Linked DNA regions of Homo sapiens. The protein of the gene in region 1 purifies or fractionates together with the protein of each later gene. This does not show direct contact. Each region holds a gene or a part of one and is shown in the gene's direction. Other genes may lie near its edges.

Region 1 (3,565 bases):
GGAATTTCCTTCTAGTCTCTCAAGAGTGTTTGTGGCATATATTTTTCATTTTATAAATATAAAATTGTACAAAGTAATGTACATTTTGTTTTAGAGAAGTCTTTTAAATGTTTGCAGACAGCCCAGATCGTCCATCCCTATTTAGGCAGTGGTCTCCAAACGTTTATGTTTATTCACCCTATTAGTAAAACTTTCTGAGCATGCCCCTCCATGTATTTATTTATGATATATATGTATATATGTATACACTGCTATATATGTATATACTGTTTTACTGATGTAAACATTAAAAACCATAGCAAACATAGACATTTTAAAAGTATATTTTCTGGTCCTCAATGGAGTTTAGAGAATGGGACAAGGAGTCTTTAGGCGTAGCACCCAGATGCCTGTAATTGATTAGAGAATGTGTATATACCATTTGTGGCAAAGCAGATATAAAACAGGCATGGACGCATGATTTTAGGTCAAGGTATTTAATTATTTTTACTTAAAATAGGCATTTTTGGTTGGGAAAGAGAAGGATGAACAATTTGATGTCACCTTTAAGACTGATGTTTTTAATTCTGCTTTTGGGACCACTTGATCTAGAATGCCTTGAAAATTCCAGAAAGATTTAACAACACACTGAGGTAAGCAAAACAAGAAAAGAAAGTAGGGGTGAGGTGATACCCAGATAATGCAAATGCAGGATGTATTGTCTGTGAATTTCAGCATCAATCTGAAAAACATGTTTTGATAATGCCTGATAATTCATCATCTCACTGATTACATGTCTTTTTTTCTATTTGTTTATAATCTTGTGTCTTCAAATGTGTGGAAGATGTGCAGACTTATTTTTAGGTATCTGAGATAGGAAGGGCCAATGTTGGCATAATTTGAACCCACATTTCGGGGCTAATGGGCGGACACCACCTGGAAACACTTACCTGCACCCTCTGTTTTGCAATCACAATGATTAGCATCTTGCTGAATGATGACCCCAATGTGAAGATGGCATTTCAGTGTTTATTTCTGGATCTATGAGTTACTTTAGCAGAGTTATTAGTAGTTTATAAAGCCATATTTAAACTTGTACACTTGATTGTAAGATAGATTTGAATTGTGCACTATGTTGACTACTGTATATAAATGTGGAAATTCTGTATATTTGGTCTTAATGCTATATGTATTTGATGTGTAAATGATAACTAATGGATATGAAATAGTTTTCTGTGAATGTCTTTCTTCCAATTTACTTCTCTTTTGCAAATTTGAATGTTTAAACTTCAGGCTCATGGGGAAAATCTGAAATGTTTGCATCTAATATACTGTTAAGTGGTGGTCTCTTAGATGACTGGGAGAGTATTTTAGTTGTAAGGCTCTTGTATAATTAAAACAGAGGTAATGAATTTTTTAGGCATATAACTTTGATAGAATTTCAAGTGAGTGGCTTTTAAGAAGAAAAACAGATCTCTGGAATATGCTGTCCCATCCTCTCCTGCTTTTATTTCATGCCCAGTGTGCCTCAGAGTGTTACGAAGTGTGAGAACCACTGGTAGAGAGAAGACAAGGAGGAGAGGGAGAGCTGGGAGCACATGTTGAGACCTTTACTATGGCTAGGCCTTATAATAGACCAATTTCCCCTTGTATAAATATTGTCTCAATTAGGCAGGGTGCAGTGGCTCATGCCTGTAATCCCAGGACTTTGGGAGGCCAAGGTGGGCAGATCACCTGAGGTTGGGAGTTTGAGACCAGCCTGACCAACATGGAGAAACCCTGTCTCTACTAAAAATACAAAATTAGCCGGGCATGGTGGTGCATGCCTGTAATCCCAGCTACTTGGGAGGCTGAGGCAGGAGAATCGCTTGAACCCAGGAGGTGGAGGCTGCAGTGAGCTGACTTTGTGCCATTGACTCCAGCCTGGGCAACAAGAGCAAAACTCCATCTCAAACACACACACACACACACACACACACACACACACACACACACACATATAGTCTCAATTAGTTTTCATACCTCTTCAATAAAGTAATTATTGTTCCCAAATTACAGATGAAGAAAGACGTTTGGGATGATAAACTGGCATATGGTAATATGGCCATGATATGCTCAAGTCTTTAGGGTCAGAGATTCACAGCAAGATTTTGGAAATTCAAATCTTACTATGAAGTGATTCACACATGTGTATGGTAATGAACCTTAAAGGATAGCTGGGCCTATAGGCATGTCAAGATCTATAGAGACATGCAGGATGTTTCAAATTCTATCTTAAAATTTGACCAAATCTTTGGTCAAATAATAATACTGTTACTCAAATATTAGCTTTTTACCATTTAGAGCAAATTACAATCAGGTAACATTCAAAATTCTAACCCTCCCTTCCCAACATGGGAATATCTATTAAGTAGGAAATGAGAGAACCCCCTAATTTCCCATTTCAGTGATAATACTGATTGAGTATCTCTTATCTGAAGTGCTTGGGACCAGAAGTGTTTTGGATCTGGGTTTTTCTCAGATTTTGAAATATTTGCATTATACCAGTTGAGTATCCCAAAATCAAAACTGGAAATCTGAAATGATCCAATGTCCGTTTCCTTTGAGTGTCATGTTAGTGCTCAAAAAGTTTTGGATTTTGGAGCGTTTCAGATTTTGGATTTTTGGATTTGGGATGCTCGACCTGTAGTTTGGTTTTCATCTTTTTAGACTCCATTTCTCTTGACCTATAAATCCTATCAGCCCTGTTTATTAACATAGACCCTAGTCAGAAATACTTTGAAATAGATCTACATCTACTTCAACGTCAGTTGGTTCCACACCCTTCTAGAACTTGTGTGGGGTCCTGGACTTCCCGTCTGTCCTGTTAGGGAAGCTTTGCTGTCCTAGCTTTCAGGACTCATCAGAGGGAAGAGGGTCATTTACCTTTCCAATGTGCTGTGATCTCAGAGTCGTTAAAATACATGTTTTGCTGCCATTTGTACTGTTTCTTGACTCAATGTTTCATATTTCTGTTCTTCTTTCCTTTTAGAGGAGAGGCGGAACAGCTGGTCTCCCTGCTCTCTCAGAAGCTGCTTGATTTGTTTCTAGATGACGCCACTGGCAGGCACTCATTAGATCTTTCACAGCTGGGCTGGTTCCCATTAGCAACAGACTTTTCTTTTAAAAACTGTCAAGGTCAGAGCAGCTTATCCTTTGGATAAAAGTGGATTTTGGAGGAAAAAAAAAAGAGGAAAAAGAACCAGCTTCCTTCCTTACGGAATTAGCGTGTTGCTGCCCCGTATGCCTAAGAGGTCTATTTTAGTGCCAGCGTTCTTGTTATGAAGACTTAGGGGGTCGTCTCCAGTGGAGGGACTGTTCGGATTGGAGGGTTACGTTCACCTACCGCAGGGTATGTTGGGCCTGGGCAAACACACTGGGTAACCTGTGCTCAACATTATATACAGGTAAATCTGGATGAAAACAAACATGAAAGGCAGCTCCGGAAGGGCAGAGGGTTGAGGGAGGGGCTGAGTGTGGGAGGGGGCAGGCCCAGGCCCCTTCCCCACTCTACCTGTTTCCAGGCATTGATTGTATGGGGACCTGG
Region 2 (4,061 bases), on another chromosome or scaffold:
GTAGTGTCTTGGGAGTGGGCAAGCCAGCCAGGCTGAGGGTCACTGGAGAGAAGGGCCACTTCTGCAGCTCAGCTTCCAGGCCGCCATCTCCTCCATGTTCCCTTCTTTCTGGACCAGCTCTTCAGGTCCTGAACACCCCCGAGGTCCTTACACTCCGTAGACGACCATGCTGCTGTTTCCTCTCCCTTCCTCCCAGATCTGACAAACACCCTTTATCCTTCAAGAGCTAATGGAAGTGACTCCCCTTGGGGATGGCTTCCCAGCCTCTGCCACTCCTTCGTGCTACCATGGTGCCTAAAATCTTGCCTCTCCCCAGCACGCGCCATGCTTTGGCCATGTTTAGATCATGCTCATTTTCCTGAAGAGACGTGTCCAGTCTCTGCTAGCTGCCTTCACGTTCCCTTCATCTGTCTGGTGAGCCTCTGCGTTTTTCAGGCTTAGCTTTGACATTATCTATGCATGTGTTCATCAAATATTTACTGGACACCAGTGTCAGGCACTGAACAGAAGGCTGGAATTACACTAATGCTGCTCACACAGTTCACTAAGGGACACGATCACACTAAGGGAGCGGCACAGAGGCCCCAGGAATGGAGGGGCTCTGAAAAAGAGTTTGCGTGGGGACAGCTGGGGGTCGGTGTTCCAGGCAGATGGAAATGCAAAATTGAAGAGCTGGAAAGACACCTAGGGGCTTCAAAGTGTCGTTTGTGGCTGGGCACGGTGGTGCATGCCTGTGATCCCAGTGCTTTGGGAGGCTGAGGCAGGAGGATCACTGGAGGCCAGGAGTTTGAGACCAACCTGGGCAACATAGAGAAACCCTGTCTCTACAAAAACATTTTTTTTTTGAGACGGAGTCTCGCTCTGTCGCCCAGGCTGGAGTGCAGTGGCGCGATCTCGGCTCACTGCAAGCTCCGCCTCCCAGGTTCATGCCATTCTCCTGCCTCAGCCTCCCGAGTAGCTGGGACTACAGGCGCCCGCCACCACGCCCAGCTAATTTTTTGTATTTTTAGTAGAGACGAGGTTTCACCGTGTTAGCCAGGATGGTCTCGATCTCCTGACCTCATGATCTGCCCGCCTCGGCCTCCCAAAGTGCTGGGATTACAGGTGTGAGCCACCGCACCCGGCCTTTTTTTTTTTTTTTTTTTTAAAGTGTCATTTGCTGAGAAGGAATACAGGAGATGAGCCAGCGTTGGGGAAGATGTTGGGTAAAGTATGGAAGTAAAGTGTTTGGGGACATTTGAATGTACTCTGTGGACAGCTATGAATGCAGCCCCAGAGCTAAGGAGAGAGAGCTGGTCGGGTTGGGTTTGGGGCTCATTGGCTTATGGTTGGCAGCTTGGGCATGGGATGAAGGAATGTGCATGGCGGGGGGTGGAGCGCCTGGCGCACTGACGTTTAAGGGGTGACAGAGGAGCTGGGGCTCCGGGAGGCTGAGGGGAGCAGAGGAAGGATGGCGACTCACCTGTAACTGTTTCCTGAGTTCTCTGCTCAGAGGATGGAGACCTCAGCATTTTATCTCTGCCTTTCCTACCCCTGAGGTTCCCTTTTCTTCTCTGTGTCGGGGATCTTCCTGCTGGAGTCTGTCAGCCTCTGGCGCCTTGTGGAGGGAGCCGCTGTGCTGCCCTGGTTGTTTGTAGACAGTGTGCCCTGGGGGCCTTCCACTTCCAAAACAGGTTTTTGTTATAGGAAGTAGGGGGAAACACAGAGACCTGTCTCTGCCCCGAAATACCAGGGACAACCGGTGAGCCCACAGCATAGCTAGAGCTGCCCGTCTCGGGAGGTGCTGGGCAGAGACCAAAGATGGGTGGGGCTGCCCTGGAAGAAGCGAGTGCAGACTGGGCCTTGGATTCCCCCTGTCTTTGTGTTGTTTCTTGCAGCTGGATCAGATCTGCATTTCTTTTGACGAAGGCAAGACCACAATGAACTTCATTGAGGCAGCGTTGTTGATCCAGGGCTCTGCCTGCGTCTACAGTAAGAAGGTGGGCCCTGCTTGACGCTGGTCTTGGCATTTTGGTGGCCAGTGGGACCACAGTCGGCTCTCCTTCTGGGGCAGGTGCAGTGGTCGTCCCGTCTGTGACCTACCTCCCTCTCTCCTCAGGTCTCAGCCAATTCCTCAGCACCTTCCAACACCAAGAACAATTTTTAATTTAAAATCGCACAGCCAGGCAGGGAGGGTCTTTTGTGCTGTTGGGCTCTGTTGTCTTGGGGGAATGACACCTGCTGTGTGCACTTGGACACAGCCCAGGGTGCCACCTGCACCCACCTTCCCCTTCCCCGTCCCCTACTTGTGGGTGCCTCATTGTCAGCACCTAGAAAGTCCACAACCACCACCCTCACGGTGGGGCCTCTGTTCTGTGGAGGAGAAGGACAGGAAGTGAGTGACGGGCTCTGTCCTGCAGGCCCCGTGGCGGCAGGAGCTGGGACAGGGCAGGGCCAGGACAGGAGGAGGGGCTGGGGTGATGCTGGCGGGAGCACACGGGCGGAGGAGCAGCAGGGCTGCAGGCCGTCGGCAGAGTGGGTGCCAAGCACGAGGGGCCTCACCACCAAGGACCGTGTGATGAGGCACACTGTGGGAACCACAGTGCTGTCAGGGTCACACGTTGAGAAGGCCACGCTCGCGGCTGCGTGGACCATAGAGGGCAGAGGAGAGATGTGGGTGGCCTCAGCTGGTAAAGTAATTCTCATGAGATTCCTGGTTTGATTTGAGAATTATTTTTGGAACCAAAATTGGTGGTTTCTTGTACTGGAGGTTTGGTGGTGGTGGCCAGGCCTCGTGGGGGCACCGATGGATAGCTGGGAAGGCCTTGGGGGTGGGCCCCTCCTTTCTGGGTCCTCACTGCCTGCATCTGGTCACCAGGTGGAATACCTCTACTCACTCGTCTACCAGGCCCTTGATTTCATCTCTGGAAAGAGGTGAGTTCTGCAGCCACTCACTGTGCTGCCCTGCATGTGGCCAGGGAGGCCCCTGCAGCTCCTGGGATGCCCACGGGATGTGCTTCTCTCTCAGGCGGGCCAAGCAGCTCTCTTCGGTGCAGGAGGACAGGGCCAATGGGGTTGCCAGCTCCGGGGTCCCCCAGGAGGCAGAGAATGAGGTGAGTTTCTTTGGCATGTGGTCCCCGCCCACTGTGTGTTTGCCTGGGCTCCGCCCCCACGAGCTCTGTCTCCCTCCAGTTCCTGTCGCTGGATGACTTCCCTGACTCCCGGACTAACGTGGATCTCAAGAATGATCAGACGCCCAGTGTGAGTCCTGGCCTGGCCCCTCTTAGGCTGGGGTGAGGTCAGCACTTTCCCTGGGGCTGTGTTGAGCTGATGGGGTGTGGGAAGGTGTCATTGCCCCATGTGGGTCCTGTTCTCCACTGGAGTGGAAGGGTGCCTGGCTCACCCACCCTTGGCCTCCATGCAGGAGGTCCTCATCATCCCCCTCCTGCCCATGGCCCTGGTGGCCCCTGATGAAATGGAGAAGAACAACAATCCCCTGTACAGGTAGGGATCTGAGCCCAGCGACGGGGAGGGAGGCCTGCCTGGGAAGGGTCTCTACAGCAGGCGTGTTTTTGCCAGCACAGCCGTCAGGGTGAGGTCCTGGCCAGCCGGAAGGATTTCAGGATGAACACGTGCGTTCCCCACCCCAGAGGGGCCTTCATGTTGGAGCCAGAGGGCATGTCCCCCATGGAACCAGCGGGCGTTTCCCCCATGCCAGGGACCCAGAAGGGTGAGGGCTTGGATGCGGGGGGCTTGGTGGGAAGGAAGGGAGGGTCTTCTGGTTGGACTCTTGTGGGGTGCCCTGTGCTTGCCACCTCTGGTCTTGGGAGCTCCCTGTCTCTGGGTGCCTGCTCTAGTCTAGACAGGTTGGCTGGTGCTCATCCCACCCATCTGCTGTGCCTTGATTACAAGTTAACATGGTCTCAGTGCCAGAGACCTGGTGCCTGGCTCAGGGCCCTGCTGTCTCCCCCCAGCCCAAGGCCTGGAGTCTGCTGGTCTCTGCCCTCCTGCTGGCCCCTTGGAGAGGCTTGTTGAACACCGGGCAGGGACCATCTTGGAGAGGGGCTGGGCTGACCTTGTCT
Region 3 (4,061 bases), on another chromosome or scaffold:
ATTAAAATCTAAGCCATACATAAGTAAACTAAAATGGAAAAAAAAAGTAGTAATTTTTAAACAGTACTTTAAAATTAGATACACCAAATGTGGTAGATGTGATAATTCAGTTGAACAGAATTCATTTTATGTTCATGAACTAATAATAGAATTTGAATAAACATTTTATATATGTTTGTAAAGTGCCTAGCACAGTGCTTAGTAGTTGATCCATAAATGATAGTAATTTTATTATTTTATTTTAGTTTCCACCTCACTGGTAAAAATAGGTAATGCTTTTTTACTTAGGGGTAAGATGTCCATACAAATGCGTTAAATACAGTATTGTAATCTGATATGATAACCTCAGCAGTTATTTGCACAATATTCTCATGGGGAGCACTTCATTTTTGATGTTACTTTCATTTACCTCCAGGATTTATTTGAGTACAAGTGTATTTTGGTAATTAAGGGCTGTAGTCTTAAACTTTAGCATGCATCAGAATTCTAGAGGGCTTATGAAAAGACAGTTTGCTAGGCACTATCCCTAGAGTTTCTGATTCAGCAAGTGTGGGATGGAATCAGAGAAGCTGCATTTCTAACAGACTCCCAGCTGATGCTACTGCAGCTGGTTTGTGGACTGTAGTTTTAGAACTGCTGTTCTAGGAAGTGGTGTGACTTCTAATTATTGCTGTTCTCTTACAATTACACATATCCAGTGGTGTTAATGTGTTGATATCATTGATGTTGCTGAATTTATTGTATGGTCCTTGTGAAATAATTTAGAGAAATTTGGTTTGTATGAGTGTCATTGTGCTTATTGCTTAGGAAGTTTCCCAAAGGTTACTTTTGCATTAGAGAATTTCGAAATACAGATTTTAACTTGTTTCTAGTCCTCTTTTTTTTTATTTAAGACACAAAACTACACAGCTTTGATTTTTAGGGGAAAAGGATGATAACTTTGGAATATATCTCACAAGGTGACTTTTTTTTTTCTGTTGTAGTTGATTTCTGAGAATTCCAGAGTATCAGGATGATGTAGCAATTTAAAAATAGTAACACAAAATTTTATCTCTAGTTTTTTTCAAAAATCTTTTTAAAACTAAAATTTGATAAGCTAGTACTGAGTAGAATTTGGTGCTCATCATTCACACGTATAAAGTAGATTTCACTCAGAATTTCACTTACACCAACATAACAATTTTACTTTTCCTTTTTAAAGCATAGCTATACCTTCAGGGATATGATGGTATAGTAGGGTTATTCTCTCAAAGAAGAAAAGGCAGTCAGAAAATCTTTGTTCATGAGATTAGACTGAAATCTTCAGTGATTCAGTGATTACTGAATGCCTCTATGTGCCAGGCACTATGGCAAAAATCAGTGCCAAAGTAATTTATCTTTATCATGTACAATGAGGGGTTTTAGTGGGTTGTAACTTAATATGATCTAATTGTGTGATGAGGCTACTGAGAAATCTAATGCAATCTTATGCTTCATTAATAGAATTAGTATTGTGTACAGATCTAGGGAAGTAAGATTCTCCTGTCTTAGTTTGCTAGAGCATGTCTGGAGGGTTAGGTTTAGTTTGGAGCTAACAGATCGATTGGAGTCATTCCAGAAGTGAGGAGCCCTGCAGTTGAAAGGCGTGGTCATATTTGCATATGAGGATTGTTGGAAAATAGGGGTAATATACTGGGAGGAAAGATGTCCTTATTAGTTCCATAATGTCTGGCTTCTCTGCTGTGCTGTAACATCCACAATGACAGTGACCTGTCCATCTTGTTTATCGCTGTGTCCTCAATGCCTAGCACAGTGCCTGGTGTGCATTCAGTAAATGGACGAGTTGAGTAAGTTTGGAGAAAGAGACGATGGTTACCTTCAAATATTTGTCATGTAGATGGCTTTTTTTTTTTTTTTTAAACGGAGTCTCATTCGCCCAGGCTAGAATGCAGTGGCATGATCTCAGCTCACTGCGTCCTCTACCTCCCAGGCTCAAGCAGTTCTCCTGCCTCAGCCTCCCAGGTAGCTGGGATTACAGGAATGTATCACCACGCCCAGCGAAGTTTTGTATTTTTAGTAGAGACGGGGTTTCACCATGTTGGCCAGGCTGGTCTTGAACTCCTGACCTCAAGTGGTCCACTTGCCTTGGTCTCCCAAAGTGCTGGGATTACAGGTGTGAGCTGCCACCACGCCTGGCCTAGATGGTTTGTTAATTACTTAAATTTTCAGAGGCCAAATGGAAGCACCAGGGATGGAATTTTTTTGGTGGGCAGATTTTAATTTTACATAAGAAGAACTTTGTAAAACTTAGTTATATTTGGCAGCCAAATTAATAAGCTTCTTCATGTATTTGAATTTGGTTATTTGAAATGCTTGAGTGGAGGCTGCATGGGGATTTACCTCTATACCTGCTTTTTTGATAGATTATGGGCCAAGATGATTTCAGCTGTTGACCTTTTTGGCTATGTGTTTCTATTTTTAAATTATTTCATTTGATAGAAAATAATGTCAACTAATAAAATATTTTTTCTAACTTAGACAATTCTTGTCATTTTAGACTAAAGCAAGCCAAAGAGCTGGACCGAGAGAGGGCTGCTGCCAATGAGCAGTTAACCAGAGCCATCCTTCGGGAGAGGATATGTAGCGAGGAGGAACGCGCTAAGGCAAAGCACCTGGTGAGTATTAAAAATGTAGGAGAAATTTTCTTGCCTACAAGGAAATCTCTGATGTTTGGGAAGAGCTAAGTACTCTGTGCCAGCTTTTAGTGTTGATAATATTATTCATGTTCTCTTTGCTCAGATTTTGATTTTTGCCTTTTATAAGTAGCTTACAGTTTAGGTTTAACCATCAAGGACTTTAAAGGCAGGTAACTCTGGAAGTATTGAAGACCAACATGCAGACATGTGTACATGTTTCACACCTGAAGGATTGTTGTCTGCTTTTTTTTCTTTTTCTTTCCTTTTTTTTTTTGAGACGGAGTCTTGCTCTGTCGCCTAGGCTAGAGTGCAGTGGTGCGATCTCAGCTCACTGCAACCTCCGCCTCCGGGGTTCAAGTGATTCTCCAGCCTCAGCCTCCCGAGTAGCTGAGATTATAGGCACCTGCCATCGTGCCCAGCTAATTTTTGTATTTATAGTAGAGACGGGGTTTCACTATCTTGGCCAGGCTGGTCTTGAACTCCTGACCATGTGATCCACCCGCCTCGGCTTCCCAAACTGCTGGGATTACAGGTGTGAGCCACCGAGCCCGGCCTGTCTTCTTTTTTTGTCCTTTGCCTTTGGTTTTATTGTCTTTGAAACCTCAGGGGTCAGCAATGTAGGCTTCTTTCTCTCGTGGCTGGCAACTACCAGATGTTAGTCTGGAAGACTCTGGCAAAGGTGAGTAAGGTTTGATCAATCACTGCCTGGGGTTTAGGGAAGAGAAAATGTAGAGCCAGGGCCTTGGGGAACAGTCTTTTCTAAGATAATTTTTTTAAAAAGAAAATATTTTTTAATCTTTTAAAAGATTACATAGACATGTTTTTGTTGTTGTCTTTAAAAGTATTACTAACAGACAGAAGAAGGTTTAAAAGACACCCATCAATCTGTCTTTCTGATATAACCATGGTTTACACCAGTGTGTGTTTTCCTCGAGATTATTTTTTTCTAGGCTTTTTAACATATTGAAACATTTAGATAATGCTATAGATGGTGTTAAGCCTCATGAACATTTTCCTATGTCACTGAACATTTTTCTGAAATGTAGTTTTTAATGGCTGAATAATGTTCTGCCTTTTGTATTCAACATAATTTATTAAGCAATTTCTTATTGTTATTTGATAGATAAAAGTGGAGCTGCTCTGGGTGAAACCTGGAGTGTTGACTGCTTAGCCTCCACTTCGGCCTTCCTAGAAACCCAGATGTTACTCCTCGGAACCTTTAGTCCTCATTGGAGCACAGTTGGGAACTCACTGGACAGGGAAAATGGGACCATGGAATGGAGAACTTTGAACTGAAGAGTGAGGGGGATTTTCCTAGTTCACTAGGCAATTGGGAAACACTAAAACTTTCTAAGAAGAAGGCTCATTTCTAGTCTCTCCCATTCT
Region 4 (4,061 bases), on another chromosome or scaffold:
GGGCAAACTTGGGAAGGTTTCTCCCTTTTACAATGTGGGATTTTTGTATTTACCTACAATCAAACGGATCTGCTGCCTTCTTAGAATAATTTTCTTAATTTCCTCCCTTTCTTTGTCATTCTCACGCAAATTATTCCACGAACTTGAGATCAAAACTCCTTTTCTTCAACTCTGTGCTCTCGTTCATTCCCTGCAGTCAGGGCAGCCACCAGACGAGCCTTTCATCCCACCTCCCACGCAGGCCGTGGTGATGTTTCCTTGCTCACAAACTTTCAGCGTCTCCTCGGGATGGTTGGACCTCTCCCTTTGCCTGACTTCCAAGCTTCCTTCTGTGCTGGCTTCATCCAAGTCCTTCCACCCCACGCCTTCCAAAGTGAACCTATGGCGGCAGGCGCACGGTCTCTTCCTGTCTGTGCCTCTTCCCCGGTGCCCTGCCCTAGGCTATGAAGCTTCTGCCTTCTGCAGACATCGCTGCCGTCCCGCCCATGGGATGGAGCTTCTCCTGTGTCTAAGTCTGCGCCTGCCTTAGGGAACCCATCCCTCTCTTGGCTGCTTCCGGCCACTGGAATCCCTCCTTGTGCTGTTCTCATTGACTTCCTGTCTGGGCTGCTTCTCTTTGTTTTTGGTGTTCTCTCCCTTTTTATTTGTAACAGCTTTATTGAGATGTGATTCACATGCTGTACAATACATCCATTTAAGGCATGTGATTTAATAGTTTTTAGTGTATTCACAGGTATGTGTGACCATTGCCACAATCATTTTTAGAACATTTTCATCACCCCCACCCCCCACCCTCCCCACCAAATCCTACTTACCCTGTAGCTATCAGTCCCCACCCCGGTCCCTGCATTTCCCCAAGCCCAAGGCAGTCACGAATCTACTTTTGTGTCTAGAGATTTGCCTGTTGTGGAATACGCCACACAGTGTGGCCTTTTGGGTCTGACTCCTTTCACTTAGCGTAGTGCTTTCAAGGTTTCTCCATGTTATAATGTGTCAGTAGTTCATTCCCTTTTATGGCTGAATAATACTCCATTGTATAGATATACTTCATTTTACTTATCCATTCATTGGTTGATGAACATTTGGGTCCTTTCCATTTTTTGGCTATTACAGATAATGCTGATGTGAACACATGTTTTCATTTGTCTTTGGTGTACAATGAGAAGTGGAATTGCCATATCAAGTGGTAACTCTCCATATCCTCGCAAATACTTATTATAATTTGACTTTAAAAATTTATTTATTTATTTAGAAACAGAGCCTCACCTGTTGTCCAGGCTGGAGTGCAGTGGCACAGTCATAGCTCGCTGTAACCATGACTTCCTGGGCTCAAGCAATCCTTTTGCCTCAGCCTCCCAAGAAGCTAGGACTGTAGGCATGTGGCACCACACCTGGCTAATTAAAAAAAAATTTTTGTTTTTTAGAGAAAGGGCCTCACTGTGTTGCCCAGGCTGGTCTCAAACTCCTGGTCTCAAGTGATCCTTTTGCCTCGGCCCTCCAAAATGCTAAGATTACAGATGCGAGCCACTATGGCTGACCCTTACACGTTGACCTTTTAATTATAGCCATCCTCGTGGGTGTGATGTGGTACCTTATTGTGGTTTAAACCCGTGTTTCTCTAGAGACTAATGATGTTGAGCATCTTTTCCTGTGCTTATTGACCATTTGTATATCTTCTTTGGAAAAATTTCTATTTAGATCCTTTGCCCATTTTTAAGTAGGATTATTTTTCATTTTATTATTCAATTCTGGAAGGTGTTTATATGTTTTAGATAAAAGTTCCTTATCAGGTATATGATTTGTACATATTTTCTCCCATTCTGTGGGTTGTCTTTTCAGTTGCCCTATGGTGTCATTTGGTACTCAAAACTTTAAAATTTTGAAAAAGTCCAATTATTTATTTATTTCTTTCATTGCTCATGCTTTTGGTGTCATCTCTAAGAACGTATTGCCAAAGCCAAGGTCATAATGATTTAGCCCTCTGTTTTCTAATAAGAGTTTTATAGTTTTAGCTCTTAATGTTTAGGTCTCGGATCTGTTTTGTATTAATTCTTGTATATGGTGTAAGGTAGGTGTGCAACTATATTATTTTGCAAGGGATATCCAGTTGTCCCAGCATCATTGGTTGAAGAGACCGCTCTTTCCCCACTGAACCATCTTGGCACCCTTGTTGAAATCAACTGACCATAGAGATAAAGGTTTCTTTATGGCCTCCTTATTCCCTTCCATTGATATGTTTGGTCTTCTCTTGTCATATGTCATTAACTAGTTATTTGATTGTATATATCTTAAATACTACAGGGACTCTATTATTATTATTATTATTACAATCTTTTGTTACTAAGGAAATGTTCATGGTAAAAAAATTAAGATGCAAAAGTTCCAAAAGTGAAAATCCTGCCCCAGCTGCTCCTGTCCCCACTTTCAGGACCTCATCCTCTGAGTACTTTGCTAAGCAGTTTTGTAGATTTCTCCTTGGAGCAGATCTGTATATGTGTCTTATGTGCATGCATGTGAAATCCAAATGCAGTTCACACTTGCGGATATGTGTATATGCATATATTCAAATTCAGCAACATTTATATTTGTATGTCTGCATTTTTTTTTGCAAAATTGAGATGTGCAAAAAATTCTATGACTTTTTAAACAATCAGCAGTATATCTCATGTGTTTTCCGTGACAGTGTATGTGTATTCTACCTTGTTCTTTCTTAATGGTTCCATAAAATTCTATAGGATGTATATGCCGAAATTTTCTCAGTCAGTTCTCTATCTGTTGGATGTTTATGTGATTTCCTTTTCTTTTTTCCCTATTTCCTCCGGTGTCACAGTGAGTGTCCTTCCACATGCCTCTGTGTACATGGGGGAGTAGTTTTCTCAGTGAGATATTCTGGAAGTGGAGTTGCTGATCATGTCTTTTGTCTTACAGTAATTTTTAATGTCTTTCCCTCCGCTGTGTTTTATGATGCCTTGCACATATTAGGCACTTAATAAATATTTACTAAAGTGAACTCTTAAGGATTTTTATCCTGGATTGATCCCCAGCTTGCTGTTTCATCTCAGTAAACTGTTTTATGACACCCTTAGGCCTATTTCACATCCTCTAAATGAATGAGAGTTTTGGTTATCCAGTCTTCATTAGGGGAACTGAGGTGAAATTAGTCAAGCAGTATTTGATTATCTACTGTATGTGTGGCACTGGAGGTGTACAGAGATGAGTGAGATTCAGGCTTAGCCCTCAAGGTATTTAAAAACCATCAGGATAGGCAGGCAGGAGGTGTAGTACTTCTCTGAGAAGCACATGTGTGTTGTCAGGGGGCTCAGAGGAAGGGAAAAGGTGATACTGGCACACCTGGGAGATGGTGCAGACGTGGCTCCAGATACCACAGTACAGTGGACATCAAAATAAAGCAAATCATGAACTTTTTGGTTTCCTAGTGTATATAAGAGTTGTGTTTACACTATATTGTAGTCTCAAGTGTACACTAACATTATGCCTAAAAAGTGTATATACCTTAATTAGAAATACTTTATTGGCAAAATATGCTAATGATCATCTGAGCCTTTAGTGAGTCATAATCTTTTTGCTGGTGGGGGGTCTTGCCTCCTTGTTGATGGCTGCTGACTGATCAGGATGGTGGTTGGCTGTGGCAGTTTTGTAAAATAAGACAACAATGAAGTTTGCCACATCGATCAACTCTTCCTTTCACAAAAGATTTCTCTGTAGCATACGATGCTGTTTGATAGCATTTAACCCATAGTGGAGCTCCTTTCAAGATCGGAGTCAGTTCTCTAAAACCCTGCTGCTACTCTATCAACTAAGTTTATGATCCTATTCTAAATCCTTTGTTGTCATTTCAGCAGTGTTCACAGCATCTTCACCAGGAGCAGATTCCATCTCAAGAAACCACTTTCTTTCCTCATCCATAAGAAGCAACTCCTCATCTGTTCAAATTTGATCCTGAGATTGCAGCAATTCAGTCACATCCTCAGGCTCCACTTCTAATTCTACTTCTCTTGCTGTTTCCACAACATCTGCAGTGACTTCTCCATTGAAGTCTT
Region 5 (4,061 bases), on another chromosome or scaffold:
TCAGGTTCAGACTATTCTCCTGCCTCAGCCTCCCAAGCAGCTGGGATTACAGGTGCCTGCCACCATGCCAGGCTAATTTTTTCTACTTGTATTTATTTATTTATTTATTTATTTATTTATTTATTTATTTTGAGACAGAGTCTCGCTCTGTCGCCCAGGCTGGAGTGCAATGGCGCGATCTCGGCTCACTGCAAGCTCCGCCTCCTGGGTTCATGCCATTCTCCTGCCTCAGCCTCCTGAGTAGCTGGAACTACAGGCGCCTGCCACCACGCCCGGCTAATTTTTTATATTTTTAGTAGAGACGGGGTTTCACCGTGTTAGCCAGGATGGTCTTGATCTCCTGACCTCATGATCCACCCGCCTCGACCTGCCAAAGTGCTGGGATTACAGGCGTGAGCCACTGCGCCCGGCCTCTACTTTTATTAGAGATGGGGTTTCACTATGTTGGCCACACTGGTCTCGAACTCCTCAGCAGCTTTTTTGGGGTCACAGTAGTTGGTGTCTCGGTGACTCTTGCCTCTGTAGGGCCTCAGAACACCTGCCGGCCGCCTTGTTCCCTGGGTCTGCTCAGCAGATTCTGGAGCTGTTACAGTGCATGGCAGGACACTTTACCTGAAAGCCTTCCTTCTCTGAGTATGGTTTTGGCAGTGATGTGGGTGTGTTTTGGCTGCTCTGGGACTCCCCTAAGTAAATAGTTGATGACTATAAGCATTGTCACTTTACTTAGACATTTCTTGGCTAGAGAATTCGCAGTGACCAACCTGGGCACTACCCTGTCTCTACAAAAAATTTGAAAATTAGCGGGCCCGTGGTGGCTCACATCTGTAGTCCTAGCTACTTGGGAAGCTGAGGCGTGAGGATCACTTGAGCCCAGGAGGTCGAGGCATCAGTGAGCCGTGTTCCTGCCACTGCAGTCCAATCTGGGTGACAGAGAGAGACCCTGTCTCAAAAAAAAAAAAAAAAAAATTTTGCAATGCCATTTCTGCAGATTCTGACAGGTTGTGTTCTTCTATATTTTGCTTTCCTCTTGTTCTCTCTCTTCTTGCTGTACACCCATCCCTGTAAGTTTTCATTCTTCTCCTCTCTTCCAGGCCCTATGGCTTTTTTCTTATTTTCCCACCTGTCTTTTAAGCAGACAGATCCATCTTGGTCATTTGGACATCTGCTGTTGAATCAAGAGAATGTACCTGCATATCCGTTTCCCCCTTAACTTTTTTTTTTTTTTTTGAGACAGAGTCTCACTCTGTTGCCCAGGTTGGAGTGCAGTGGCGTGATCTCGGCTCCCTGCAAGCTCCGTCTCCCGGGTTCATGCCATTCTCCTGCCTCAGCCTCCCAAGTAGCTGGGACTGCAGGCGCCCACCACCATGCCCGGCTAATTTTTTGTAATTTTAGTAGAGACGGGGTTTCACCATGTTAGCCAGGATGGTTTCGATCTCCTGACCTCGTAATCCGCCCGCCTCAGCCTCCCAAAGTGCTGGGATTACAGGCGTGAGCCACCGCGCCCAGCCACCCCTTTAACTTTCTTACTTCTGATCACAGTCCCTTTTATCCCTTGGCCTGGGAAGTGCACCATCATTCTTAGGTTTTCCTGGTTTGAAAGCCACCCAGGACTAAATGCCGCCTCTCTGGAAGAACTTACTATTTTCTATAATCCAGGCAGTCATTCTTTGAACAGTGGTGTTTTCTGACTGCGTATGCCATGCTTGCTTTCTCTGTGTCAATGCCATGCGTGCTTTCTCTGTGGTTGGAACAGGGCTGCTTTTTAATGGTGGTTTTGCTCATCTGACTTAGAAAGCAGCTCCAGACTGTGCTGGTCAGATACTTAATTCTGCATCCAGGTTTAGCCTGAGCATCTATGGTTCACTTTCTCAGCAAGTGATTAAATGCTTCCTTTTCTCTTAAGACCCAACAGGGCTAGGTTCTGAGCCTCTCCTCATCAGGCCCAGCGTAAGCAGTTCTTTCATTCTTCAGGATCACAACTGTGTCCTGCTAAATTCCGTGTCCCATCTGCAGGGAGCAGAGACTTGTGCAGAGCTGGCCGTTACGCAGTTTCATGAAGTGATCTGTGCTTCCTCCTGTTTTTGTTTCTATTTCCTTCCCTCTCACTCTTGAGTCACCTCTGACTTCAGGATGTGAAATCTGTTTAGGAACCATCACCTCACGGTTCTACCAGCTGGTCCCTTCCTCTCCCACCCCGGTTCTTCTACTTCCTGATTGCCAGTTACTATAGCATCATTGGCACCTACTACATGCCAGGCCCTGCATTGGTGCTTCACAGAGCAAGGTCTCCCTGGATCCTCAACAAATTAACAGGGTAAGGCCCACCTCAGACTCACCTGTGATGACACCCAGCCACTGCAGGAGAATGTGCTTAGCCACAGTCACACAGCAGCAAGAGGCCAGGGAAGCTGCTAAATGCTGTGCTTCCATCCCAGAGGTGTTGCAAGCAATAGGGTAGTTTAAAAAAAAAATGATTTTGAGCCAGGCATGGTGGCTCATGCCTGTTATCCTAGCACTTTGGGAGGCTAAGGCGGGAGGAGTTTGAGACCAGCCTGGGCAACATAGCCAGACCCTGTCTCTTAAAAAAAAAAAAAAATTGAAAAATTAGCCACACATGCCTATAGTCCCAGCTACTTGGGAGGCTGAAGTAGGAGGAGTGCTTGAGCCTGAGAATTCAAGGTTACAGTGAGCCATGATTGCACCACTGCATTCCGGCCTGGGTGACAAAAACCCTGTCTTTTTAATTATTTATTTATTTATTTATTTATTTATTTTTTATTTTTTTGAGATAAAGTCTCACTCTGTCACCCAGGCTGGAGTGCAGTGGCGCAATCTTAGCTCCCTGCCACTTCTGCCTCCTGGGCTCATGTGGTTCTTTTGCCTCAGCTTCCAGAGTAGCTGATGTGACAGGCACACACCACCATGCCCAGCTAATTTTTGTATATTTTGTAGAGATGGGGTTTTGCCATGTTGCCCAGGTTGGTCTCAAACTCCTGAGCTCAAGCAGTCCACCTGTCTTGGCCTCCCAAAGTGCCAGGATTACAGGCGTGAGCCATTGCTCCCAGCCAACCCTGTCTCTTATAAAAACAAAACAACAACAGGCCAGGCATGGTGGCTCACGCCTGTAATCCCGGCACTTTGGGAGGCTGAGGTGGTAGTATCTCCTGAGCCCAGGAGTTTGAGACCAGCCTGGGCAAGATAGCGAGACCCCCATCTCTACAAAAAAGTAAAACAATTAGTTGGGCCTGCCAGGCGCCATGGCTCACGCCTGTAATCCCAGCACTTTGGGAGGCCAAGGCGGGTGCATCACCTGAGGTCAGGAGTTCGAGACCTGCCTGACCAACATAGAGAAACCCCGTCTCTACTGAAAATACAAAATTAGCCAGGCGTGATGGCGCATGCCTGTAATCCCAGCTACTCGGGAGGCTGAGGCAGGAGAATCGCTTGAACCCGGGAGCCGGAGGGTGCCATGAGCCAAGATCACACCATTGCACTCCAGCCTGGGCAGCAAGAGCGAAAATTCATCTCAAAAAACAAAATTAGTAGGACCTGGTGAGATGCACCTGTAGTCCCAGCTACTTGGGAGACCGAGCCAGGAGGATCTCTTGAGCCCAGGAGTTTGAGGTTACAGTGAGGACCACTGCACTCCCCCTGGGTGGCAGAGGGATACCATGTCTAAAAACTACAATCAAAAAAAGCCTTTTTTTTAAAAGTTACTTTGGTTTTAAGGAATAAGAAGCCTTGAAACACTCAGCCCTGGACTGAATCCTCCAGGCACCAGAGCTGTGCTGGTCTGGACCCTTCCACCCCACTTGAAACCTGTTGGCCCTGTTGCAACCCTCTCTTGCTTTCCCTGAGAACCCTAAGGTGACCCCAGGGGCTGCTGATGGAGACAGTCACCTCCTTGCCCTGCTCCCTGCAGCCTCTCACTTTGGCTGCTTTGCTATCATAAGGAAGGAAACATAAAAGCTACTTTTTAGCATTACAAAGTTAAAAAAAAAAAACACCCGGGCACGGTGGCTCACACCTGTAATCCCAGCACTTTGGGAGGCCGAGGCAGG
Region 6 (4,061 bases), on another chromosome or scaffold:
TAGCTTCCAAATGCTTTGTGAATTTTACTATCAGTTTATTTGTATGGTCTGCAAATAACTAGTGAAATGATTAGTGCTAACACTGTAGTTGCTATCAACTTCCCAGTTAATTCAGGAATGTTATATTAGTGTAATGACATTCAGATACCTACAGATTATAATTATGAGCATTAGTATCATTAATCTAATTATTGAGCTTTTCTGTTAATAAAAGCACTGCAGTTTTTGTATTCATTATGGTAATTGCTTTGACTGTTTTTCACCTCTGAGCCAAAATTTGAGGCTGGCACATTGAGGGATAGTAGTGGATTATTGATTGGTCAGTAGACCTGTCTTGGCTCTGGTGTTAACAGAGATACCATTGGTGTTGTTACACTGAGGTTTGGTTAGCCTCAGCATCTGCCTTTCTAAAATTGGTGATACGATTTCTCTGAGACTTCCAGTTCCAAAAATCTCTTTTCTATTATGTCTGTTGAGGGTCTTTTTATAACAATCGTCAAACAGTTTTTTAATTAACATTATTTGCATTTTATAACTAATGTATATAAATCTTTGGCAAGTTAAACATAACTAATATTATTTGCTTAGCAAAGCTTTAAATAATATATAAAGTCATGATACTCTAAACTGTTGACTCTGAAGTAATAAGAATTTGCCTTACTAATTGGAAAATTACTGTGCTGTATTTTAGGTATTTTATATGCATTACCTGAGTCTGAACGAAAACTACAGAGTTCTATTCAGGATTTGTGTGTTACCTGGTGGGAGAAAGGCCTGCCTGCCAAGGAAGACACAGGAAAGACAGCCTTTGTCATGTTACTAAGGAGGAGTCTGGAGACTAAGACAGTATGCTCACTTTTTATTTTTTTAAAGACAGGGTCTCTCTCTATTGCCCAGATGGAGTGCAGTGGCATGATCATAGCTCACTGCAGCCTCAAACTCCTGGGCTCGAGCAATCCTCCTGCCTCAGCCTCTCAAGTAGCTGAGACTTCAGGAGTGCACCACCTAGCTAGGACTTTATTTTTAAACGTCTTCCTAACATTCTAAACCTGCGCTATTCAACGTAGTAGCCACTTGCCACAGAAAGCTGTTTAAATTTAAAGTTAAAAATAATGAAAAATTCAGTTCCTCAGTTGCATTAGTCACATTTTAGTAGCTCTACAGTGAAATGTGGCTAATGTCTACTGCACTAGACAGTTCAGATGTATAAAATCTTCATCATCGAGGAAGTTCTTAAACTTGCTGGATTTTTAATTATTTTCCTTATGTTTTAAAAAAATGTTCTGTAGAGCTATAGGGGGCATTTGCAAATTTTAAAATCTGTTTTTATTTGTCGTTATTTTTTAATCTTTGATGAATCAACTAGAATTACCATTATTTATGATATAAAATATACTTGATTTGAAATATGACTTTACTGTTCATTGAAAAAGGTATCACATTTTTTGTGTCATTCCTAGGGTGCAGACGTATGTCGGCTTTGGCGTATCCATCAAGCTTTATATTGCTTTGATTATGATTTGGAGGAAAGTGGAGAAATTAAAGATATGTTACTTGAGTGCTTCATAAATATTAATTATATCAAGAAAGAAGAGGTAAATAGGTATTTGTTTTTTGATCTGTTTGTGAGCTGCTTCTTAATAGATGTTTCTCCTGTGTTCACATGGTTCCTGTCTGCACCATGCTCGGTGTTGCTTAGCTACCAGGAGCTATTTACTGCACATGATTTTTACTGCATGGCAGTACTAGAGAAGACATTTTACAAGTCCTTGCTTATTTCATCATTAAATTGGATGGTAACAGGTGGCTGTGTGTTACCTAGGGGAACCGTAATTACATTTTAAATTAAGAATGATTAAAAATAAGGTTGAGAAAGCACTTCTCTATGAATGAGATCTGGCCTTCTGCCCTAATTCCATTTTAATTGCCATGTACTCAAAACTGTCATCCCATAATATCCTCCCTTTCTTTTTTCTACCCATCCTGTAAATCCAGAGAGGCTTCTGGCCTGTTGCTGCACTGCCCGTCCTGGGGTCAACTCCCATATGAGGCTACTGAGCACCTGAAATGGGACCCAACTGAACTGAGATTAGCCATAAGTATAAAATACACATGGATTTGAAGATTTAGTGGGAAAGAAATGAACATAAAATAGCTCATTAATAATTTTTGTTCTATACTTAATATAATAGACAATATTTTTATTGTCTGTTATATTAAATATTGCTTTACATAAAATATATTATTAAAATTAATCTTCTTTACTTTTGTTAACATGACTACTAAAGAATTGAGAATTACAGAGAGGCTCGCATAGTTCTTCTGTGTTAGGGGCCTTCTGCAGTTGTTTACTGAGCGTCGACTACATGCTCAGGCAGTGCCAGGGGAGACTAGAACAAGCTTTTGCATTTGGATGCTCATGGCTCAGCAGGCACATCTCTGAGGCAGAAGGAGGAAGTCATCCCTCCTCCCTGAAGGAGGTGGAGAAGGGCTTCAGAGGAAGAGGAGGACCAGCTCTGAGGTACAGAATAAGTTTCCTCCAGGTGTCACAGCTGCTCAGCGGCAGAGACAGAACTGGACCCCGGCGAGCCATCTGCAGTCTGCTAGACAAAGGGCCATGTGATTAGGACTGAGACCTTTGGCTCCCAGGGTCTTTGTTCACTTTATAGGTGGTGCCCTTGGTCAGGCCTTTCAGCCTCAGAGTTTTGTTCTGTAAAATAGGAGCAACAGTTACTGTTTCACAGGATTGTTGTTAGGAACAGATGAGGTAATATGTATCAAACCGCAGCCCAGGCGCTGGTGGATAAGAACCCCTGGGGAGGGCTGCCCTTTGCCATCCTTGCTGTGTCAGCACCATCGTTATTACAAAGATGTTGGACACAGCCTGTGCCCCACACATGTCTCCAGGATTGTTCTGAAATGGGAGAGTGAAGAAATTAATGATGGATTCAAACAATAAACTATTTTATGTTGACTTATACATAAGGAGTTGATGAATCGTACTTGTTAACTTATATATGTGTGCAGATATATAACAGACATAAATGTATGTATGTGTTATAACCTCTACCCTTTTTAAAAAATTGATGTCTCCTTTGAATTTAAGATATCTAAATGTAGTTTCCTAATCAATCATTAATTTGGTCAGGTCAGTTTCCAGTCATTCTGGGTAAACCATAAACATCTTGTACTGTACTAACAGATTACTTCCAGTGAATATTACTGTTTTTTTTTTTAACTTGCCTGTTGTGAGCATGGTTACCCTGCATTTGAATCAAAATGTATTGCATTTCTGTAGGATTCCAGTTCTGTGCAGTGGTGTGCTGGTAAGAGATGAAGGTGCTATTCACTGAGAGAGTTCTAGATAGATGCATCTTATGCACTCTATAGAGTATGAAGATTGTATTCATTCTTCTTAGGTTCAGATACATAATCTAGTAGCATGCATATAAATTATCATCACATGATGTATTTATGACTTGAAGACTGTGTATTTGGAAATTCTAGCTTGACAAACACTTAGCCTTTTAACTATATGAGTCCTCAGTTTTCTCATCTATAAATGAGAAGGTGAAATGAACTGGGATATTCAACTCCATTCCCACCCACCTATGCTAGATTTAAAGCTTTCTTTCATTTGAGACTATGGAACCATCCATGACAGAGCCAGAATGAGATGTTTATGGACCCATGGTTACTGTCTGTGGTCTCCATCTCTGCACCTGTGGCCCTTGAGGACAGAGGCGCTCAGTGTAGCGGCTGCTCGGCCCTGGGGGAGGTGGCTTGTGTGGCTCCTGGCTGTGCAGGCCCCGCAGACAGCTCAACTCGTGCATGTGCTCTCAGTGATAATTACATGTGCCTCGTTTTTAGCAATAGCAATGTTTAGCTTACTAGACGTTCAAATAATTGTTTGTTATTTGGCACTTTTTATTTGGTTGCAATGTAAACATTCTATCCTTTTTTATTTCTAGGGAAGAAGATTTCTTAGTTGTCTCTTCAACTGGAATATCAACTTCATCAAAATGATCCACGGGACCATTAAAAACCAGTTACAGGGATTA
Region 7 (4,061 bases), on another chromosome or scaffold:
CCCTTGGGAAGCCTGGCCCCAACTCAAGCGGAACCCGCAAAGCCGGACTCCCAGCTTTTTCCTCGGGTGGGATCAGATTTTAGGCCCTCCGCTCTTCCTCCCTCCAAATTCAGGTCCCTGGAGTCCATCCTCCCTTCGAATCCGGTAGTTCAGGCCCTGGGCCTCTTCCTTGGACCTAGGCGTCCGAGCCCCCAGCCCTGGCATTCTCTCCGCAGATGGAGGTGGAGGTGGCCTTGCTGCGGGGTGAGCTGGCTGGGGAGCGAGTGGCCGCTCGCCGGGAGGAGGAGCAGCTGCGGGAGCTGCTGGAGCAGCAGGCGGCCTCGGAGCAGCGCGGCCGCCAGCAGCGGGAACAGGTCTGTTTGGCTCACCGGGTCTTCATCAGCAGTGTCCTTCCTGGTCCATGGATGTTGGTGTGCTCCTAGCCACCTGCGCCCCGGGGTTGTCCCCATTCCCCAAAGGAAGACATTTGGGCTCCTGAGAGAGTGAGGGGCAGATGCCCCTCCTGGTTTTCCTTCTCCCTCCCTGGGCGAGATTTTTGGGGCTCTTCCTTTGTCCCCTGTCCGTTTGCTATTTAAATGTGGGTGTGTAAAAACTTCCAAACTGGCCGGAAGCAGTGGCTCACGCCTGTAATCATAGCACTTTGGGAGGCCGAGGCGGGCGGATTGCCTGAGCTCAGGAGTTTGAGACCAGCCTGGGCAACATGGCGAAACCCCGTCTCTGCTTAAAAATACAAAAATTAGCAGGGCGTGGTGGCGGGCGCCTGTAGTCCCAGCTACTTGGGAGGCTGAGGCAGGAGAATCGCTTGAATCCGGGAGATGGAGGTTGCAGTGAGCCAAGATCGCACCATTGCACTCCAGCAGCCTGCGTGACAAGAAGGAGACTCCGTCTCAAAAAAAAAAAAAAAAAAAAAAGAGAAAAAGAAAACTTCCAAACCCACCCCACAATAGTCAGGCAGCTCCCATGTCCTGTGCCCACCAGCTTCATCAATGATTAATATTCTTACATTCTTGTTTCATTATCTCCAATTTGTTCTCGTCCCCAGTTTTAAAAGCCAATCCCAGACATCATATGGTCTGTACATATGTTTAGAGTGTATCATTGACAGATAAGAAATCCTTTTAGGCTGGGCCAAGTGGCTCACACCTGTAATCCCAGTACTTGCGGGGTGGGGGGGGGGTACGGGGGGCGGGGCAAAGTGGGAGGATCGCTTGAGGCCAAGACTATGAGACCAGCCTGGCAATATTATAATAAGACACCGTTTCTGTGAAAAATAAAAATACAAAAATTAACCAGGCATGGTGGCATGTGCCTGTGGCCTCAGACTCAGAAGAGTGAGGTGGGAGGATCAATTGAGCCCAGAAGGTAGAGGCTGCAGTGAGCTGTGATTATAACATTGCACTCCAACCTGGGCGATAGAGCAAGACCCTGTCTCAAAAATAAAAAATTAATAAGTTCTTAGTATTGTCTTATTTCTGGTTAGTTTTTGTGTTTCCCAGACAGTCTCAAAATGCCAGTTAACAGGTGGCTTGTTTGAATGAAGTCCCCAAAGTTCAGTGTGATTGGCTGATACGTCTTGCCCATTGTTTTATCTCTGGTGGTTCCTACCCGCTGTGTCTTCCCCATACTGTTTATTGGAAAAATCCAGTCTTCTGTCCTATAGGCAGAGCATGGCTGATCGCATGCCTGTGGTGCCCTTGAACATGCCTCTGTTTCTGCAAGTGGGTGTTGGTTAGAGGGAGAGGTTTGATCGTATTCAGAAGTGCTTTAGTGCTTCCTGAGCCAGTGTTGGGAACCTCATCTCTGGTTGTCCCGACCTAATAAGATCACCCTAGTCTCTTTTTTTTTGCGAGACACAGTTTCGCTCTTGTTGCCCAGGCTGGAGTGCAATGGCGTGATCTTGGCTCACCGTAACCTCTGCCTCCCAGGTTCAAGCGATTCTCCTGTCTTAGCCTCCCCAGTAGCTGGGATTACAGGCATGCACCACCATGCCCGGGTAATTTTGTATTTTCAGTAGAGATGGGGTTTCTCCATGCTGGTCAGGCTGGTCTCGAACTCCTGACCTCAGGTGATCTGCCCGCCTTGGCCTCCCAAAGTGCTGGGATTACAGGTATGAGCCACCGCAGTTCGAGGCCAGCCTGGCCAACATGATGAAACCCCATCTCTACTAAAAATACAAAAAATTAGCTGGGCGTGGTGGCAGGCACCAGTAATCCCAGCTATTCGGGAGGCTGAGGCAGGAGAATTGCTTGAATCCGGGAGGTGGAGGTTGCAGCTCCCAGGAGCCAAGATCACACCACTGCACTCCAGCCTGGGCAACGGGAGCAGAACTCCATCTCAAAAAAAAGAATCTTTTATCTGAAGATTGTAACATCCATCAGTGGTCATTGCTTGGGTCAGTTACCATTATAGGTTGGAAAATGGTGACTTGTGATTTTGTCAGTTTTTTTCTTTGCAAGTGTCGTGTATGTTGGAATTTTATGAGGCTGGGTCCTAGGCCCTCATTTATCCTCAAAGATCACATATTTCTCCCAGGCCCTCTCTCCTGAGACAGAAATGTGCTCTTCTTCCTAGGGTACTGGCTACTTCATACTCCCTTCTCACCCAGATCCAGAAATCTCGGTCGCAGCCCCTTCTCCCTCTGTCCCAGGAGTCCAGACCCCCAGCTCCTCCTCCCTCAAACCCAGAAGTCCAGACCCCCAGATCCTCCTTCCTTAGATCCAGGAATCCAGGCCCCAGCCCCTCCTCCCTCTGACCCAGGAGTCTGGCTGACCTCAGCAACTCCCTTCTCCACACTGTTTGTCTTGCTGTCCCTTTGGTCACCAGGCCAGAGTCCTGGACTTTGCCCTGTACACTTCCCTGTCTCTCACCTCCAAGCCCGTCAACCACCATGTCCTATCCTTTCTGCTTCCTGATCCTCTCTGTCTAGTCCATCTATTTTTCAGCCCCACCGCCCAGGCCCCAGCTTAGGTCTCACCCTCATTGCTTGGAGGACTCCCGAGGCAGCTGCTCTCCACCCCTGTAACCCATCTCCCAGAGGGATGATTCCTAGCTCCTACCCCATCCTTTCAGTCCTTCTGAGGCTCCCCATATCCCCAGGTTGACCAAACCCCCCGTGAGCTGGACGAGCTGGCCTTCCCACTGTCCTCTCCCACCACGTTCTTCCCACCACCACATCCTCTTCCACCCTGGCTGGAGTTTGTCCCCCAGACTTCTTGTACTTTTCAACTTTCATGCATTTGTGCCAAGCCGCTTCCTCTGCCCAAAATGCTCTTCTAGCTCCTTTTATTTTCCCAGATCCAAATGCTCCCTGATTGTTTTGTTTTGTTTTGATTTTGAGACAGGGTCTCACTGTCGCCCAGGCTGGAGTGCAGTAGTGCAATCACTGCAGCCTCAACCTCTGGCTGACATTGTTCTTCATTCTGGGTTCCCACAGTCTCTGGATTTTACTGCCCTGATCTTTCCAACTGGCTGTGTTCCCACTTGGAGGACAGGGCCCAGACACAATCCACTTCTGCATCCACCGTATCACATAACATGAATATGTTTTGCATTCATTAATTTTCTTTCTTCTTTCCTTCCTTCCATCATTCCTTCCTTCCTTCCTTTTTGTTTCTCTTTCTCCTCCTTTCCTTTTCTTTCTTTTTCTTTCTCTTCCCTCCCTCCCTCTTTTCTTTCTCTCTCTCCTTCCTTCGTTCCTTCCCTCTTTCTCTCTTTCTTTCTTTTCTGTCTTTTCTCCTTTCCTTCCCTTTCGAGACAGTGTCTCCCTCTGTCACCCAGACTGGAACAGTGATGCAAACACAGCTCAGTGCAGCCTCAATCTCCCTGGCTCAAGCAATCCTCCCACCTCAGCCTCCCGAGTAGCTGGAACTACAGGCGTGCACTAACACACTCCACTAATTTTTTTGTTTTTTTGTAGAGATGGGCTCCCCCTATGTTGCCCAGGCTAGTCTCAAACACCTGGGCTCAAGAGATCTTCCCACTTTGGCCTCCCACAGTGCTAGGATTACAGGTGTGGGCCACCACACCTGGCCTCATTCATTTCTTTAAAATCTTGGTGCTGA

The links.
Region 2: the proteins of FAXC (region 1) and NCAPH2 purify together in Homo sapiens (co-immunoprecipitation; 2 studies listed by BioGRID and IntAct, with this or other methods). This does not show direct contact.
Region 3: the proteins of FAXC (region 1) and CHCHD3 purify together in Homo sapiens (co-immunoprecipitation; 2 studies listed by BioGRID and IntAct, with this or other methods). This does not show direct contact.
Region 4: the proteins of FAXC (region 1) and CHCHD6 purify together in Homo sapiens (co-immunoprecipitation; 2 studies listed by BioGRID and IntAct, with this or other methods). This does not show direct contact.
Region 5: the proteins of FAXC (region 1) and MAU2 purify together in Homo sapiens (affinity purification with mass spectrometry; one large-scale study listed by BioGRID and IntAct). This does not show direct contact.
Region 6: the proteins of FAXC (region 1) and NCAPG2 purify together in Homo sapiens (co-immunoprecipitation; 2 studies listed by BioGRID and IntAct, with this or other methods). This does not show direct contact.
Region 7: the proteins of FAXC (region 1) and PHLDB3 purify together in Homo sapiens (affinity purification with mass spectrometry; one large-scale study listed by BioGRID and IntAct). This does not show direct contact.

What each region holds. Positions count from the first base shown.
Region 1 is NC_000006.12:99,270,559-99,274,123, reverse strand, and holds the end of FAXC (failed axon connections homolog), read left to right. Parts: 3' UTR 1-2,956; downstream 2,957-3,565. UniProt on the Homo sapiens protein: May play a role in axonal development.
Region 2 is NC_000022.11:50,514,570-50,518,630, forward strand, and holds part of NCAPH2 (condensin-2 complex subunit H2), read left to right. Parts: intron 1-1,150; exon of another isoform or gene 1,151-1,178; coding exon of another isoform or gene 1,179-1,205; intron 1,206-1,877; coding exon 1,878-1,979; intron 1,980-2,857; coding exon 2,858-2,913; intron 2,914-3,007; coding exon 3,008-3,092; intron 3,093-3,171; coding exon 3,172-3,240; intron 3,241-3,403; coding exon 3,404-3,483; intron 3,484-3,558; exon of another isoform or gene 3,559-3,563; coding exon 3,564-3,709; intron 3,710-4,061. UniProt on the Homo sapiens protein: Regulatory subunit of the condensin-2 complex, a complex that seems to provide chromosomes with an additional level of organization and rigidity and in establishing mitotic chromosome architecture.
Region 3 is NC_000007.14:132,973,762-132,977,822, reverse strand, and holds part of CHCHD3 (MICOS complex subunit MIC19), read left to right. Parts: intron 1-2,536; coding exon 2,537-2,654; intron 2,655-3,798; coding exon of another isoform or gene 3,799-3,846; exon of another isoform or gene 3,847-4,061. UniProt on the Homo sapiens protein: Component of the MICOS complex, a large protein complex of the mitochondrial inner membrane that plays crucial roles in the maintenance of crista junctions, inner membrane architecture, and formation of contact sites to the outer membrane.
Region 4 is NC_000003.12:126,720,924-126,724,984, forward strand, and holds part of CHCHD6 (MICOS complex subunit MIC25), read left to right. Parts: intron 1-4,061. UniProt on the Homo sapiens protein: Component of the MICOS complex, a large protein complex of the mitochondrial inner membrane that plays crucial roles in the maintenance of crista junctions, inner membrane architecture, and formation of contact sites to the outer membrane.
Region 5 is NC_000019.10:19,327,213-19,331,273, forward strand, and holds part of MAU2 (MAU2 chromatid cohesion factor homolog), read left to right. Parts: intron 1-4,061. UniProt on the Homo sapiens protein: Plays an important role in the loading of the cohesin complex on to DNA. Forms a heterodimeric complex (also known as cohesin loading complex) with NIPBL/SCC2 which mediates the loading of the cohesin complex onto chromatin.
Region 6 is NC_000007.14:158,687,353-158,691,413, reverse strand, and holds part of NCAPG2 (condensin-2 complex subunit G2), read left to right. Parts: intron 1-691; coding exon 692-846; intron 847-1,460; coding exon 1,461-1,595; intron 1,596-3,971; coding exon 3,972-4,061. UniProt on the Homo sapiens protein: Regulatory subunit of the condensin-2 complex, a complex which establishes mitotic chromosome architecture and is involved in physical rigidity of the chromatid axis.
Region 7 is NC_000019.10:43,498,026-43,502,086, reverse strand, and holds part of PHLDB3 (pleckstrin homology-like domain family B member 3), read left to right. Parts: intron 1-215; coding exon 216-353; intron 354-4,061.